3 linked regions of the Homo sapiens genome follow. The protein of the gene in region 1 purifies or fractionates together with the protein of each later gene. This does not show direct contact. Each region holds a gene or a part of one and is shown on either strand. Other genes may lie near its edges.

Region 1 (7,183 bases):
TTCCTCCTTGACATCATTATTTCAATTTCATTCTATTTTTTTAACTTCAGCTTTTCTCCTATAATTCATTTCTGTATGTAGGAAACATATTTTCTTCCATTTTCTGAATATATTAAACATTTTTCCAGACAATTTTCTTGTGCCTGCAAGACTTCAAAATGGAAACATTCCCTTGCTCTAAAATGTTTTTCACCAATTTCTGGTAGTTTTGATTTGTTTCCTCCTCTTCAACAGATGGAAAATTTGTACTTGGTATTTGCCAACAAATAGGTAATGGAATTTGCCTTTGATCTCATTAACTCTTGAGTGCAGATGTTGATGTACATCGACTTTGCTTCAGTTTTTTATATCCCAGACATTTATCATATCAGCCACACACACACATGTCTCTACTCTGAATCATCCATTTTTTCACTGTGACCTACAAGGCCTTACAGTGTGGTCTGGTCCGCAGCTACCTCTCTGCCCACATCTCTACCACTTTCCGCATTGCTCATTGCAGTAGCCACAATGGTCTTCTTTCTCTCATACTAGGCATGGTTCTACCTCAGTCTCTTTGAACTTTGCCTGGGACACTCTTTCCTTAGATAGTGTCATAGATTGCTCTCTGTCTTTGATTCCATTGCTCAGATATCATCTTACTAATACCAGTGAGGCCTTGCTTACCCATCTTATATAAAATTGCAAAGCTTTCCCTACCCAGACACTCTATATCCTTCTTACCAGGAGATCATTTTTTCTTTAGACTTAATATACTGTATTTTTCCTTGTTTTCTTATTTTTTTGTTTCCCTATTATTATATAAGTTCCATGAACAGCAAGAGTAAGAACTTGGCTTTGTTTACTGTTCTATCTCCAGCTAGAACAATAGGTGCTGTAGCATTCAAAATGCTGAATGGGTTGAAAGTAGGTATATAAGTCAGCTCTCATATGTGGAGGTAGGTTTGTCTCCCTCTTCAGTCTGGTTCTTTGAATCTCTCAACCGGTGTTGGAGATTTAAAAATGCTTATCCCTAGCACCCACCACTATCAGAGATTTCCTCTTTGTTCCTCCCTTTGGTGGGAACTGTTCTTTTGATTTGCATTTATTCATTGTACAAATACTTAATCAACTGCATTACTGTGTCAGTGCAAGTCACAGAGGTATCTGTGATGAGTACAACAGAGAAGATCCTTGCCCTCTTTAAGCTTCATTGATGTTTTCTGTGATGCTTATTTCCTTCCTCCAGCCTCCTCAGCTTAAATGCTGAGGCTCTTTCTTTGTGGTCAATTCCTGTCAGGGGTGTATGTTTCTACTGGCTCGCTCTTAGCTTCATAGTCAATAATAAATACATTTGAAGGAAGCTTATTTGATACACTGAAGGATTTATAAATGCTTAATGTGGAGGATGATAATAGAGCAATGGACACTTTCTTTATGCTGGCAAAAAGTTATAGCTATGTACTTCCCAGCCAAATGGATTGTCACTGCATTAGTCCCATGATGATCTGTAGGAAGGGTCAAGAAAATTGAGAATTTATGTTACACATTTTCTTATCCTAATTATTGCATTAACAGTTGGGTCTTTTGTCTCCAGGAGGCACAGGTGTACTATGGTGGCTGTATGCAAAGCAAAGAAGGTCTCCCAAAGAAACTGTTACTCCTGAGCAGCTTCAGATAGCTGAAGACAATCTTCGGGCCCTCCTCATTTATGCCATTTCAGCTACAGTGTTCACAGTGAGTTTAGGCTTTGGCGTGTCTTTCGGTTTTGTGTTTTTGTTTGCAGGAGATCATTAATGGAGCAGAAACTCAAATCTAGCTTTTGCATTCCTAACCCTGATCTCCAGTAGATAATATCTCTGTGCCATAGTGTATGAAACACTAAAAAGTCTCTTGAAGGCTTCCCTCATGGATGAGTGCTATTTGATGAAACATTTTTTCTACCCTGTCTGCTTTTTGAGAGAGGATTTTCACCTAGAATATTTACATTACCATTTGCTTACAAGAACATATTTCTTATTGTCATAAGATAATTACTTTTTAAAAATGGTTCCCTTTACTGTAGAAAAGTATGTTAAAAAATATATCATTCCATTTACTTGTTTGCTAATTATCTTCCCATTTGTCTTTCAAACTTTTCATTTAACTTTATGGCGTTATTTCAAAAATATAGGTGTGGTCAGGTACAGTGGCTTATGCCTATAATGCAAGCACTTTGGGAGACTGAAGTGGGAGGATCACTTGAGCCCACGAGTTCTAGACCAACCTGGGCAAGATAGTGAGACCCTGTCTTCACAAAAAATTAAAATCAGCTGAGCATGCTGGTGTGCACCTGTGGTCCCAGCTACTCGGGAGGCAGAGGTGGGAGGGTCACCTGAGCCATGATTGTGTCACTGCATTACAGCCTAGGCAACTGAGTGAGACCTTGTCTCCAAAATATATATGTGTGTTTGTGTGTGCGTGTGTGTGCGCGCGCGCGCGTGTGTGTGTGTGTGTGTGAGATTTGCTGCTTAGGTATTAAGCAATAAAATTACCAATTAACATGTGGTTAAATAATTTATATGTATACCTTTGGTTCATCATCGTCTTCTCTCTGAAAAAAGAAAAAAAATCAGTCTACTTCTAAGAGCAATCCCAAGCTTTTTATTGAGCATCAGAAACAAAAAATAAAGCCATCATAAAACCATTGGTGCCAAAAGATATTTGTTAGTTATTGTTATACAGATATTACAACAAAATATGAATGAAATCTCATTTTAGGTACAATTTGCTGTGCCAGCTGCTGAAGATGGGATGTGGGGGTGGGAGGAGGCAAAGGGTGAATCTGACACAGATCCCACTTTTAAGGAGCTGTTGGTCTAATAAGGAAGATACAAATAAAAACCTCGTTTTTGTGGTGTATCTGTTTAAATAAATAAAGAGTCTCATCCTGACTGACAGTATGTTTTGGTTCATAATGAGTGGCAAAGGGAAAAGGAAAAAAATTCTAGAATGTATTAATAAGTTGAGAAATCCTTTTATGTTTTGCTTTAAAGGTCACTTGGTAACCATAATATAAAATTGACAATAAATATTGCAAGAGAGATACTTACTGATAAAGTATTATTGAAATTCAAAGAATGCTACCTCCAGGTTTGGGGCTGAAGGGTTATGTTAAAAATTTCTACTATTTTCGGTTTCTGTTTTCACTACTTATAATAATAACTGAAACCATTCTCTCCATACAGGTGATCTTATTCCTGATAATGTTGGTTATGCGCAAACGTGTTGCTCTTACCATCGCCTTGTTCCACGTAGCTGGCAAGGTCTTCATTCACTTGCCACTGCTAGTCTTCCAACCCTTCTGGACTTTCTTTGCTCTTGTCTTGTTTTGGGTGTACTGGATCATGACACTTCTTTTTCTTGGCACTACCGGTAAGAAGATAAGCTTCTTTCTCTTAGTGACAAACGTGATTTGCATTCCAGTATTTTAGAACATCAGAGAGAGGTAATTCTTCAGACATTTGTTGATGAAGGTCCAATAGCCATCAGAACTTGTAGTGGTTATGGCTCCTCAACAACCTACTTCATATTCGTCTTTTTTTTTTGAGACAGAGTCTTGCTCTGTCACCCAGGCTGGAGTGAAGTGGTGCTCTCTTGGCTCACTGCAACCTCCGCCTCCCGGGTTCAAGTGATTCTTCTGCCTCAGCCTCCTGAGTAGCTGGGACTACAGGCACATGCCACCATGCCTGGCTAATTTTTGTATTTTTAGTAGAGACAGGGTTTCACCATATTGGCCAGGCTGGTCTCGAACTCCTGACCTCATGATCAGGTCAGGACGCCTGCCTTGGCCTCCCAAAGTGTTGGGATTATAGGCGTGAGCCACCGCACCTGGCCTTTTATTTTTTTTGAGACAGAGTGTCTCTCTGTCACACAAACTGGAGTGCAGTGGTGTGATCTCAGCTCACTGCAACCTCAGCCTCCCAGGTTTAAGCGATTCTCCTGCCTCAGCCTCCCGAGCAGCTGGCACTACAGGTATGCACCACCATGCCTGGCTAATTTTTGTATCTTTAGTAGAGACAGGGTTTCTCCATGTTGCCCAGGCTGCTCTCCAACTCCTGGCCTCATGTGATCCATCCACCTCGGCCTCCCAAAGTGCTGGGATTACAGGCGTGAGCCAGCGTGCCCAGCCCATATTCATGATTTTTTAGAACATCCTAGCAATGTAAGTCTAGATCAGGGAAGGCCTGAAATTGCACTCTAATTTTGAAATGATCATGAATTTGAAGTAAGTTCCAATACTGACTCAGACATTTAGATTCATTCTAAGATGAACCAGTGAATGCAATGTCACTCAGGAGTTACCTCAAATCCCAGGTATAGCCAAGGATCTACTTACTTCCTTGGGATTTTCTGGTTTCGAAATGATCTGACCCTAGCTAGAGCTCCAACTGATGATATAGTTCATAGTTAGACACTCAGACTTTCTTACAGCCGTACTGAGTATCAAAGGTTAAGCTTAAATGGAACTAATTGTAAAGAGTATCATAAGGATAGTAAACTTTTATGTAACTATGTAACTTATCTGTCCATTCAGCACACACACTTAGCAACTGAATATAATAATAATTTCTGTACTTTGCTAAGAAATCTGTAATGATTGGATAAATAATAGGCCTTGAAAAAAACTGAAGTGTTTGAAAATTCATGCTTAAATAATTGATAATATAAGAAGAGTTTTATTAAATATAACAACTTTTAAAAGCTTTATATGATGCCTTTGAGGACATCAAAATGCATAATAGTACAATTCTTAATTTCACAACTTTTCAAGTGATAGTTATTTTTGTCCCTTTATGAAATACCACACAGATCAGAAGGTTTGTGGCTTGGGGTAGGGACCTATTGCCTTCTACTTAACTGCCGTATTTCTGGATTTGTACTTTATGTGCTTCTTCTTTCCTTCCTTGATATTTTCCTAGGCAGTCCTGTTCAGAATGAGCAAGGCTTTGTGGAGTTCAAAATTTCTGGGCCTCTGCAGTACATGTGGTGGTACCATGTGGTGGGCCTGATTTGGATCAGTGAATTTATTCTAGCATGTCAGCAGATGACAGTGGCAGGAGCTGTGGTAACATACTATTTTACTAGGTAAGAATATGTTGTTATTAGAAAACTCGAGTTCATCTAAGGGATGGTGTCCGCAGGCTGGAGGGGAAGGGAATCAGACTGGGGCTGGCAGGAGTTTCATTTCTTTAACAAAAGAATTAGAAATGAATATGACAGAGTGTTATATATAGTTGATAATTCTGGGAGGTGGTCAAATGAGAGATTGTTGTTTTATTCTTTATACTTTTCTGCAGTTGTCTCATAAAATTTATTGCGATGTCACAAATTGTATTTAGCAGAAGAATAAATCTTATAGTGGTGCCATATGTACTTTTGCTTTATATAAAAGTCCATCAAAGGACAACAAGTCTTTTTAGTTTGTTTAGACCGGAACAAGTGTGAGTTCCCTTTGCTAACTTTAGAGCCAAATATGAAAGCTTTAGGTCTCATAATTTTCTATTATAATTAGATGCCAAGTCTAAATTTAACATCTTTTTAAATTCTGTTTTCTGATGACCCCATAAGTATTCACTAATAAAAGCTTTCAGAGCACAGTTTTATTTAACTTGAAGTATTAGAGCATCAGAACCCCATGAAACTACCATAGAGCAATGACATTAATTTTATATAGCATGTCTGTAGCATTTGTAATAGTTATATATCACTTGGCCATTTTGTCATAAAGCTAAAATAAGAATGATGAGCTGATTTTTTTTTTCACTGCGTTGGACTCTAAACCATACCTGTGTTTCCATCCTGATCTAGGCTTTGTTTTAATTGTCTTTTTGGTCATTTTTTAAATAGGGATAAAAGGAATTTGCCATTTACACCTATTTTGGCATCAGTAAATCGCCTTATTCGTTACCACCTAGGTACGGTGGCAAAAGGATCTTTCATTATCACATTAGTCAAAATTCCGCGAATGATCCTTATGTATATTCACAGTCAGCTCAAAGGAAAGGTAAGGGGAAAATGCATTTCTGTACTTTCTGTGGGCACATTCCAGACCTCAGTTCTGCATGTAGTAAAGCACCCAATAATGTTAAATACAAAGTTGTGTTTTCTTCAAAGTCTTTACAAGGCAAAATCCAGCCCTTCTCCCTTGTCTCCCACTCATGCACTCCATATGCTCTGGCAAAATTCATCCAGTCACTAGTAACTAAAAGTATCCTGTGCTGCTCTTCCTCTCTGTTGACTCACATACCTTCCTCCTTAGAACTTCTTCCCTTCCTTGACTGTGGGAATAACATGCACTTCAACTAGTTTAGCTCAAATTCTACTCCTTTGTAGAAACCTTTCCTGATTCCTCCCATCTCCCAAACAATGCTGTCTCTTTGTTCTCCACTCTCATAACACTTAGTATCTATACTATATTCTGATTCTAACCTTTTTTGTGTTTGGTATTTTTTTTCTCCTACTAGATTGTAAGTTCCTTGCAGGTGTTATAAACTTCACTGTATATGCAGTAGAGACTAAATAAATATTTAATTGAACTTATTAAAAATAATTCAGTCATTATGTTTTAAGGAGAAAGTGGACAAGTATGGAGGCTTTGAAGCATAAATTGTGATTTTTAAATTTTTATTTATTTTTCTAACGTTTGAAGTCTTCTATGTGACAGTTTGATTCTTTGGTTTTTTTATTATTTCCATTTTTCCCCCATCCAGGAAAATGCTTGTGCACGATGTGTGCTGAAATCTTGCATTTGTTGCCTTTGGTGTCTTGAAAAGTGCCTAAATTATTTAAATCAGGTAAAATATTTTAAAAATAAATCTAATATTTACTTTCAAAGATAGGTTCATTGTTTCTTCTCCCAAGATAAACTTAATTGAAAGATGTTATGTTTTTCTTGTGGTATTGTACATTGTGCCTTGATAAAGTATGTCTATTTCAATCATATTCTTATTTTTTAAATTAATGTATATGCTTACCAAGGCTCATTATTATTTTAATTTTTTCCAACTTTTAGGTTTAGGGAGTACATGTACAGATTTGTTACATATGTTATTATTTTTATTTTAATAAATAGATAAAACATCACTCTGGTTCGTCTTTCAGGAAAAACATTTATCTCTCATCCCTTAATTCACATTCCTTCATTTTTTAAGTTTTTCCTAAG
Region 2 (4,146 bases), on another chromosome or scaffold:
TATGTTTCAAAGGTAATTATAAAAACGGTTTATTTCCCTTGTTTTATTAACACAGTCACTAAACTTCAATCTCAGTGTTTAATTTTCCCCAACAGTTTAGCTATTTCCAAGAAAAACAATCATTTGAAGACTGGCATTGCAGATAACAAAACAGTATTACCTGGTACTGGCTTCTCTGTCAGTAGGTATTTTCAGTGGAAACAGAACCTCAAACCTGGCTACCCCGTTCCCACTTCACAGCCATTAAAACACAGCCTTGCTTTTTGCATTTCACGATTATCAAATGAACGATTCACTTCACGAAAAGAACAGTGAGGAGAATCCTGGAGAACCACGGAACTCCCCACCACGTTATGCTAAACACACCATTAGCACAGACACGGGAGACTGTCATGCTTCTGAAATCCTTTTCTTCCAGAACACCTGAGGATTACAAAACCAACACTTCTACTTAAAAAACACCTTTTTAAATTAAAAATAATAAGTGTAGTCGGGGCAAGAAAAGGAAAACAGTGTCTTTATTGTGTGTAGTTCTAACAAACGTTCACTGTGTGCGCATTCCAGCAGAAAGAGACAAAGATCTTTGTTCAAAATATTCTGAAAAAGGTAAACTAACTGCATTATTGAATACACAAAAGGAATGTTACCGTTACTTGTTCATAGTCAAAGGTGAAGTTAAAAAAAAAGGGAAGTTAAATAACTGAAGTAATGGTTTGCCCAAATAGCAAACGTAGGATACAAGCGTGGGCAAAGAGCAGCTACTGAAGCTCATGAGGAGGATGCTGGATATAGGGTAGGTAACTTGACAAATGCCTCTGCTTCTTTGGAACCTTCTTCCTAGATCACCCCCACAAATTCCAAACCTGGCTCTTTCAGAGCACAACAGCCAAATGTAACTAAACTCCTCATTACTTCTGTGATATTTGGCAACAGAATAAGATAGTTTAAAAAAAAATCAATTTCTTGTTGAGACAAGACATGTCTGAATCCATTTCTCTTGGGGTAGGAGGAGGTAATGAACATTAACGTTCTGCATCTCAATCTCCTAAAATGGAATTTAACCAGATAGATATCGCTTGAGATTTTAAAGCAGGAGATACCATAAGTAATGATACTCCAGGCCTGTAAAGCATTTTTCATTGTCCCACATTGCAGCTAAATGAGTATAAACTCGACAGTGTTCTGATTTCACAACATATGCATTTATGACAACTGCTAAAACAACTTTACAGGCTCAAACGATAGGTTCCAAGGGATTTTTGTTTTTGCTTAAGCAGTCTTGAAGAGATCTAAACACAAGATAAACTTTGACCCCACCACTCTGTTATCTTTACAAATGCAGAAGTCATTTGGAAACCAAAACCAATTGCTGAGTAGGGGCTGAGGAATTTTGGTGTCATTTCAAACTAGACTCTACTGAGGCAGGTTTAAACCCTGGCTCTCAGGCCAGGGGCAGTGGTACCAACACCCTCTATTTCGGTAGCATGAAACTTCTCTCACCTCCTCCTTCGTGTCCAGCAGCCATGATGTGTACAGTACAGTTTGCAGCAGCAGCAGCAGCAGCAGCTAGTCTTCCTCAGGAATAAACAACCGAACACCCCAGAGACCAGCTCCAGGTGGCACTGTCAGCCAATGGGGACTGGCTCCACTTGCTCTCCAGAGGGTTTTTCACCAGCTACCCATGTCAAGACTGTTTTGTGAATTCAAGTCTACTTCCTAAAAAAAAGGTCCTTTTGGATGGATTTGGCTAGTGTGCTATACTACTTTATTGTATAGAAAAACCTCTGCAAACTCTCACACAAGATTTAGCTTTCACCTGGCTGTTTTTGTAGGCAACAAAATAACAGTAAATGGACCCCAAAGTGATTTTCCAGATACAAAGTGACATCACATCGGCAGTAGTTCAGAAGAAGCCCTGGGTACTGGGGGATTTCATGGGTGGAAGAGACAAAGTCTAATTATCTTTTCCTCTGGCTCTCAGCAAAAAACAAGTGCAGATGTAAACAGGAAAAGAAAACCAATGTGAAGTAGAAAAACATACCTTTTGCATTGGCATTTACCTTAAAAATAACAAAAACACCAATTTTACTTAAGATGGTAGTTCTTTAACATTTCTTATAAGCCAGATGTTTTTCATTCAATTTCGGACATTGCCAACACACTTTTACAACTGATTCAAGTTATCTTCAGGCTTGGCTTTAGTTTGAATGTTCCCTTTCAAGCTCCTCAATACTCCTCTGTTCTTTACTTTTACCCCAATGTACTCCAATAATCACGCAATTTATTTATTACAGGCAATCATATACCAATCCTTCCTTGCCTTTAAATAGAGAAGCATCAAGTCATACCACTTTTGTTAAATAATAACCAAAGTTTTTTTCAATATTGTCTTAAAAGTAGCATCTTATAATGCATACAAACATTTTTCTAAAGATAAAAGCTTTACTAAACCCATATCCCTGATAATAAAAGTCAGCCAGAAATCTCCTAAAATTACTCCCAAATATATCCAAGTGTGCAAGTACAAGGTTAATATTATTTTGATGAATTCTGTATTCATTCAACTGCTAAATCACAGGATACAAGACCTGGGTTGAACTTTTTCTTAAATAGTTTACATGGGCAGTCCCTGGTTTGCTGGGCAGTTTCCTGTCTCATCAAATCCCTGGCAAGCTGGGAGGGAGGGAGGAGATGCTGAGCAGCCTCTATGGTCCTTCTTGAACCAAGCTGCTCCCTGCTGGATATGACAATGGCTCAGAAGCAGACTAGCAATTCTCAAAGGACAGGGAGAAAAATCACCACAGTTGCTGGCAGAAAACAGCCAGTGTACTATTTATTTCCTCAAGTGCTTCCATGGGGGAAAAAATAAAAGTCTAATATGCCAGAGAAATCATCATTGAACCAATAAGACACAGTAACATAATTCTAGTAACCTACTTCTCAATGAACACACATCTGAGAAAAAAACCGCCAGTATTTTATTCTCATGGAAAAACAGAACAAACCCACAAGTTGGAGTCACGGAGATAAAATACAGATGAAATGGAAAACGGTCTGTTGTCATGAACTCTCACTTTCAAATACCATTTTATATGGAAGTTACTTTACTGCGGGGCAAACAGAAGGCCATGCTGGAGTCTCTTACTTTTGGAAAATGGAGAATCAAAAATTTGCTAATCAACAAACAAAAAAGGAGGGAAACTCCTTGGTAAAGCTCTACAAACATAATTATACATTTATATTTTACCAATAAAAGATAGCTAGGGTAGAAAAAACAGATGGTTAGAAACTGGTGCCAAACCAAAGTGAAAGCTTTGGTGCCTTCTCTAAACTCCTATCCTGTTTCTTTAGAAAACACCAGTTTTCTAAAGAAAGATTACTCTGAATTCACCAGGGTTCTATCACCCCAATTCATCCCTACCTTTCCACCCCCAAGACACGAAAGGGCCATGTAGTTTTTTGTCCGGCACCACTTGGGAAGGGGCTGGGCTCAGGGGCTGGGAAGAGCTACCTGCTGCCCTAGCTTGAAAGGGAGGAGGTGGCCACACCATTCTTTGTATTTTTATCACGCACATAAAAGAACAAAAATCATTTGGCAGTTTTAAGTTTAATAGGTGCAAACCTTTACTTCAGGAATTAAACCCCTTATGATAAATAAAAGAATTAAATCAGATTTTTTTTTAATACAGATAGGGGTCTCGCTATGTTGCCCAGGCTGGTCTTGAACTCTTGGCCTCAAGCGATCTTCCCACCTTGGCCTCCCAAAGTGCCAGGATTACAGGCCTGAGCCACCACACCTAGCCCTAAATCAGAATTTTTTAAAAAAAATTTACTTAAAAGAAAAATGGAAAAATAAAACTTTCAACACTAGACTGCCGCCCTGTTAAGAATGTCTAATATGCAATCAAAGTATTGGAAAGCAGGCATTTTTACCAAAGAGCAATGTCACTATAACTTATGAACAGAAAGTTGTGAAATATAAGGGTACTCATGGAAACCAGTGAAGAGAGGAAACACCGGCAATTGTTCAACACGGAACAGTGAGCAGGTACTTTGGGAGTAAGGCTCTGAGAGATGGAAGACGCTGGTCTCAGATCTGAGGTGATGTCTGGCCAATCGTCTTGGCTCCAAGGGGGAAGAATGCAA
Region 3 (7,183 bases), on another chromosome or scaffold:
TGTAACCTAAGGGAACTGCTTGGGTGATTATGTTGTCACCACGTCCGTTTCTCTCTTGAGACCAGACATTTATAAACTTGGCATTCGGAACCTGATGTGGGCCTTGAAAAGCAGGAATTGTGAGGCCAGTGCCCAGCAGCACTTTGCACAGAGGCTGCTGAGAGGGGGTGTCCAACAGGCATCCAGAGAGAGGCCAACCTCAGTGGAGTAGGATGGTTATTGGGGGGCTGTGCCTCTTCCCTGGCCTGATCTCATCCCTGTGGGTCACTCCCTGATGGCCACAGCCAAACCAGCAAATCAGTCTGTTCTTCCACCACCTCCAGAACCGGCCCTCCTAGCTCTATTTTGATTGTTTCTACATTTCCTTCAGACCTCCCTGCCCGCCTGCCCACCCCCCAAAAAACAGTTGAGAGGGAAAACATCTTGCTGATGTCCATGTGGTAGACACACAAGTATTTCTCCAGCTGAAATGGGGAACCAGGGTTAGGGCCAGTCCAGTCTGACACATGCATGTCTGCCCTCTTTCTGGTCAGAGAAGGGGAGGAACTCCTTAGGGCAAAAGAGGGAAAGGTTTGGCTATACTGACAGAGCCCAATCCCCTCCCCACCTCCCTCAGCCCCTTTGCTTACTGTCTCTCATGCCTCGCTCACTGATGGAAACAGCAGTGTGGGGCTGGGAGGTCTCTTTCCCAAGAAACCATATCCCCTAGACCTAGGGGAGGCTGGTGCGAAACACAGAGACCTACACTGGGAATTCAGAGACCTGGATGTGAGCCCAGCTCTGTCCTCAACTCACTTTGAAACCTTGGGTTGGTCACTTCTGTGCTCTAAGCCTCAGTTTCCTCATCTGTAAAACAATAGCTTGGAACAAATGGTCTCAAAAGGTCCTTTCAAGCTCAGTCTATGAACCCAACACCCCTACACATACCACATACAACAATAGAACTCTCCTACACAACCCAAAATAGGAACCAATATTGGGTACGATGTATACTATGTTGGTGATGGTCACATTAAAAGCCCAGACTTCACCATGTGTAACAAAACTACATTCGTGTCCCCTAAATCTATAAATAATAATATAATAAACAAAATACAAGCCCTGAATTGGAAATGGGAGATGGATACCAAGGCTTGAGTCCTCAGAACTTAGCTTTTCTTGGCCTTTACCTCTGGAGCAAGAGCCCAGCTGGTGCTTTTCTTTGCTGTTGCTTCTCAGTTCCCTCTCCTCACCCTGGGTGGGGTCTCTCTCAGGGGTGTTCATTGCCCGTATACCTTAGTACTTGGCCTAGTGATCAAAGCACCAGTCCTGGGTTCCATGTCTCATCACCAGATGGGGCTGGTGACCACCCCACATGGTGCTGTGAGAGTTAAATGGGGAGTATGTGTAGTGCACTTAGCATAGTAGATTGCACCAGACATATCTTCCAACAGTAGCTATTGTTATTCACTAGTGGAGAGTAGAATGAGGCCCTGGGGAGGGTGAGAGCAGTTCTCTAAGAAGTGTGGAAGTCTAAACCGCAGATGTGGCCAGGAGGACCCTCCCAATCCACACACTGGCCTCCCTGCCCCTTCCTGTATCAGTGCCAACTTTGTCCTGTGCATCAAAACCCTGACTCCATTTCATGGGTTGCTACTGCTCATTTGGCTGCGGGAAGGCCCCGCTTCTGAAAATAAAATTGCCTGTCAGAGAAACCCTAAGGATCAGGATTCCGGATCTGGGCAGGGCATGGACAAGTTGGGTGGCAGTGGCAAAAGCCCCTCCCCATGGTCTGCCTTTTCCCCCAGAAGCAAGTTGCTGGGACTGTTGCATAAAATGGCTCCCACCTCCAGTGCCCAGACAGCCTGCGCTGGGGTGAAGCTGGCTACACGTGCACTGAAGCTGGCAGGCTTGGGGAGAGGTGAGCTGAGGCCAGGTATCTGCTTCCTTTGCCCAGGATTTTGATGGTCTCTCCCCTACACCCACAGTGGGTGTGAACAACAAAGACCCAATCTTTTGATGGTGGTGAGGATTCCTCTGCACACGCTCACACTCACGTTCTCTACCCCCTTCTTTTCAACGTGGCCCACAGCACGATTCCAGACCCTGCTCTATTGTGCTCAGAGGAAGCAGCTGCTGGCTCCAGCCCGAATTTGGGAGTGCTTTGATATGCAGCCCTCTCTGGGGCCCTGCCAGTACTGACTCTAGATGAGCCCTCTGCGGCTGCTGGGCTCACAAATCAGCCTTCTCACCCCTTCCTCCAGGAGCAGTGTTGGATGAGAATCTCCCCCTTACACACATAGATCCTGTGTTTGTTTTGTCTGCTTTTGTTTGTTTGTTTGTTTTTGTTTTCCTGTTCTGTTCAATTTTATAAGGAGGCATAGCTTTTGGACTTGGTTGCAGGGTTGGGTTTGGAACTTAATAATACCTTGGATTGACAAAGGCGCCTTTTCTTCTAAAGAACACAAACCTTGATGGTTCTTGCCTGGGTGTGGTTCTCACCTGGGTGAGCCTGGCTGTGAGGGTAGGGGGCCTGAGGTCACCCCAACCACAGCTTCTGTGGTCCTACTGGCAGCATGTTCTAGACAGACCTGTGTGGAGCTGGGGAAAGGAGAGTGGAGAAGTTTGAGGAAGCTGCATGTTTATGTTTTGTGTTCCTCCCTCCCCCAGGTTGGGGTCAGCGGGACTTTATTTGGATCCACCACAGGTCTTTTCAACCAAAGCCTTGCAGAAACAGGCTTTACCCCATACACACAGAAGAGCAACGACTTCCTTGTTAAGAGTCTGAAAATCTGGGTGAGAGCCTGTCAGACCCATGGCCTCAGAGAGCAGGAAAAATCCTTTGCAACTGGGAAGGAAATTCAGAAGACAAAAAAAAAAAAAAATGCAGGGGAATAGGGGGCGGGGGCTAGTCTTTATACATTTCTTTCTTTCTTTTTTTTTTTGGAGACGGTGCTCACTCTGTCACCCAGGCTGGAGTGCAGTGTTAACAATCATGGCTCATGGCTCACTGCAAACTCAACCTCCCAGCTCAGGCGATCCTCACACCTCAGCCTCCTGAGTAACTGGGACTACAGGCATGTGCCACTACACCCAGCTAACCTTTTAATTTTTTTGTAGAGACAGGATCTCACTATGTTGCCCAGGCTGGTCTCAAACTCCTAGGCTCAAGCGATCTGCCAACCTTGGCCTCCCAAAATGCTAGGATTACAGGAATGAGCCACCGCGCCTGGCCTACATTTCTTAAATTTATGTTTTAAGGCCTGACTACAGATTACTTGCCTGTTTTATTCCATGGAAAAAGTCATGCTGGTCCAGGGACATTCTCATTTTCCATCAAGTGATGGCATGCAGCCGTAGAAAGCAACATCCTGTCCCCAGATGAGATAATTTTTTTGTGATAATTTTATAATAATTGTATCTATCTGGTAATTTCCTCCCCCCGCCTCTCCAAAAATACTTAGTTGTGGATAGTTTTAAGTGCTATATCCTGTCATCCTAGACTAATACATCTTAACGTTTTTAGGGAAATTCCTTTTTAGGGAATTCCTTGGAATCAGTACGACCTGCCTCCAGAAAAATGTTATGTCTGTTTCTGGAGGCCCATAGACATTTTTTTTTTTTTTGCCTTTTTCTCCATTGCCCAGGCTGCAGTATAGTGGCACCATCATAGTTCACTGCAGCCTCAAACTCCTGGGCTTTACACAATCCTGGCCTCAGCCTCTCAAGTAGCTGGGACTACAGCACACACCACTATACCCGGCTAATTTTTTTGTACAGAGAGGGTCTCTCTATGTCGCCCAAGCTGGTCTTGAACTCCTGGGCTCAAGCAGTCCTTCAGCCTCGGACTCCCAAAGCACTGGGATCATAAATGTGAGCCACCACGCCCAGCCTGAGCTCACGCTATAAATGCCCCATATTGGTTTTTCTCCCTCAGTTTCCAGACAACCCCTGCTCTGTCCTGAGTCCCATATTTCTGCCATAAGAAGCAGGTTGCCTCACCGTTCCCCGGGGGCTGCAATGGGGGCATCACAGGGGACTTTGTGAAAGGCATTAGAAATGATAAATTCCCTAGTGATCAAGTGCAGCTCAGATGGGACAGCTGGCCTCCCACCCATCCCTCTGACTCTCAGCTTAATCATTGCCTAAGGAGTGGTTTTCACTCGGTTAATTTAATGAGTGCTCTGTATTTCTAGTACACACGAAAAATGCAACTGTATGATCTTCCAGCCAGGTTGGGCCTCTTGGCTTAGCTTTTCCCAGAGCTTGGTGCTTCATCTTTGTTCAGGAAGAAAGGAGGTCTGTCTCTCTTCTCCTTCCCTCCAAATGCAGACGGAAAGTCTCGTCCTCTGAGGACTTGCAGAAAGGAGGAATGTCTCAGGAGGGATCATTTGGGGAGCTGCACTCCCAAGGAGTTGAGAAGCAGCCTGGTTGAGTAACTGGGAAAGGCAAAGCAGCCTGACTTGGAGAGGGGCCCGGATTAATGTGATTCCAGAGGAGGTCCCGGTAGAGAGAAGTTTGGGGACTACTGACTTGGAGAAAAATCAGAAACCCGGGTCTTAAGAGCCCTTCCTCTTCAATCCTTAAGCCAGGCATTGTGCCTGAGGGAAGAAATAGTGGCTCTTATGAGCTCTGCTAGAAAAGTAACCCTTCAGGCCAGGCGCGGTGGCTCACGCCTATAATCCCAGCATTTTGGGAGGCCGAGACAGGCGGATCACCTGAGGTTGGGAGTTTGAGACCAGCCTGGCCAACATGGAAAAACCCCCTCTCTACTAAAAATGCAAAATTAGCCAGTCATGGTGGCAGGTGCCTGTAATCCCAGCTACTTGGGAGGCTGAGGCAGGAGAATTGCTTGAACCTGGGAGGCGGCGGTTGCAGTGAGCTGAAATCGTGCCATTGCACTCCAGCCTGGGCGACAAGAGTGAAACTCCATCTCAAAAAAAAAAAAAAAAGAAAAGAAAAGTAACCCTTCACAGCTTACCCAATGCACATCCAAGTTTCCAGTGACACCTCTGAGCAGGCTAAGCAGCTGGTGGCTCCTGCCAAGCCCTCTCCTCGGAACTGAGCTTCACAGCTTCAGGTGCCAGTCCCTTGCTGACACTCCCAGTCTAAGCTGTGTGTTAGTCTCCAAGTTCAGAAACAACACAATACATGGGTCATAGGAGAAGAACCTCGACTGAGGCTAAAAATACCATAAAGTTAATCAGGCAGTTTTATTAATTATGAATTTATTAATTCAAAACCTATTCAAGGATTTTAGTTTTTTTTGTTTGTTTGTTTGTTTTTGTTCTTTTTTTTTTGAGGTGGAGTTTCACTCTTGTTGCCCAGGCTGGAGTGTAATGGTGCGATCGCAGCTCACCGCAACCTCCGCCTCCTGAGTTCAAGCCATTCTCCTGCCTCAGCCTCCTGAGTAGTTGGGATTACAGGGGTGTGCCACCATGCCCGGCTAATTTTTAGTAGAGACGGGGTTTCTCCATGTTGATCAGGCCGGTCTTGAACTCCTGACCTCAGGTGATCCACCCGCCTCAGCCTCCCAAAGTGCTGGGATTACAGGTGTGTAGTTTAATGTCTTTTAAACCTAAGTTGATTGAATGTAGTATGATAATACAGTGTACTGATTTATTAAAACTCTAAATGAAATGATCAGCAAAATCATACTATTTGTGAACTCATCATTGCTTTTTTTGTTGTTTGTTTTGAGACAGAGTCTCGCTCTGTCACCCAGGCTGGAGTGCAGTGGCGCAATCTTGGCATACTGCAACCTCTGCCTCCCAGGTTCAAGTGATTCTCCCGCCTCAGCCTCCTGAGTAGCTGCGACTACAGGCACATGCCACCACGCCCAGCTAATTTTTGTATTTTTAGTAGAGATGGGATTTCATCATGTTGGCCAGGCTGGTCTCACCTCAGGTGATCCACCCACCTCTGCCTCCCAAAGTGCTGGGATTATAGGCGTGAGCCACCGCACCGGGCTCGTCGTAGCTTTTCAAGTCAATAGAAATCTGGTGTTTGAATCCACATCATGTCTTCCCTTGTAGGTGGGCAGTTGCAGTGTGTAGTGTGCATGCACACCCCAGATTTATGCCCAACTCCACTGGATGTTTTCTGGGTGGGGAGTCATCCATACCTCCCTCAGCGGCCCCGTTCCTAGAGACGGGAGGCCCTTCCCACTAAGACATATTCCTCCTGCTCTCCATGGTGCAATGTAAACATCTTCTTTCTCACAATGTGGGACTGTGGATTTAAATTTATTATTGCTAAGCTCAGATGTTTTAAAGCTTCCTGTCTACAAGCCTGAGAAAATCTCTTCATACTCTCCTTTCCTCCTCTCTAGTCAAATTGTAGCCCTGGCTCCCTAAGACACAACCCTTTAGAGACCCAGACTGCAAATTTCTTTTTTTTTTTTTTTTTTTTTCTGAGATGGAGTCTCATTCTGTTGCCCAGGCTGGAGTGTAGTGGCACAATCTCGGCTCACTGCAACCTCTGCCTCCTGGGTTCAAGCGATTCTCATGCCTCAGCCTCTTGAGTAGCTGGGATTACAGGCATGTACCACCATGCCCGGCTAATTTTTGTGTTTTTAGTAGAGATGGGGTTTTGCCACGTTGACCAGGCTGGTCTCGAACTGCTGACCTCAGGTGATACGCCCACCTCGGCCTTCCAAAGTGCTGGGATTACAGGCGTGAGTCACCGCGCCCAGCTGGGACTGCTCATTTCAAATAGAAATTAGATTATCTTCTAGGATGAGGAGGGACACTTTGGCCTTCTTTGTCATGGGAGGCTGGCACTCTCCTCTAGGACCCTGGGGTGTGTCTTGAGAGCTCGTGCCCAGGGCTATAACACAGAGAGGCCTGTGCTGATGTCATCTTGTTCTGCCCTTTGCTGGCAGGGTGGTTCTGGGGAAGGGCAGAGGCTCCGGGTCCCACTCTGGGGCTGTTTTCACGGGGGATGGAAGGACCATGGCCACTGAACGGGCTGCGGTCCCGTCTATGGACACAATGCCAATGGGCAGCTGCAACAGTGCAGCCAAGGGGAAAGGAGGATGTGCGAGTTGCCCTGGAGAGTCCCTTCCCAGAGCGCCGCCTCTGTCCACCCTGACTATATGACCAGTGGAACCAAGGGTGTGGCTGAAGCTCTCAGGACAAAGGCCAGGGAGAGGAAGCACCGGCTGTTTTTTTTAGACTCTCTTCGAGCACCCACTACCCCCACT

The links.
Region 2: the proteins of SLC44A1 (region 1) and CYB5B purify together in Homo sapiens (affinity purification with mass spectrometry; 2 studies listed by BioGRID and IntAct, with this or other methods). This does not show direct contact.
Region 3: the proteins of SLC44A1 (region 1) and CD9 purify together in Homo sapiens (co-immunoprecipitation; 2 studies listed by IntAct). This does not show direct contact.

The regions. Positions count from the first base shown.
Region 1 is NC_000009.12:105,359,615-105,366,797, forward strand, and holds part of SLC44A1 (choline transporter-like protein 1), read left to right. Parts: intron 1-1,576; coding exon 1,577-1,716; intron 1,717-3,206; coding exon 3,207-3,393; intron 3,394-4,940; coding exon 4,941-5,106; intron 5,107-5,868; coding exon 5,869-6,025; intron 6,026-6,731; coding exon 6,732-6,815; intron 6,816-7,183.
Region 2 is NC_000016.10:69,462,619-69,466,764, reverse strand, and holds the end of CYB5B (cytochrome b5 type B), read right to left. Parts: 3' UTR 501-4,146; downstream 1-500. UniProt on the Homo sapiens protein: Cytochrome b5 is a membrane-bound hemoprotein functioning as an electron carrier for several membrane-bound oxygenases.
Region 3 is NC_000012.12:6,203,310-6,210,492, forward strand, and holds part of CD9 (CD9 antigen), read left to right. Parts: intron 1-7,183. UniProt on the Homo sapiens protein: Integral membrane protein associated with integrins, which regulates different processes, such as sperm-egg fusion, platelet activation and aggregation, and cell adhesion.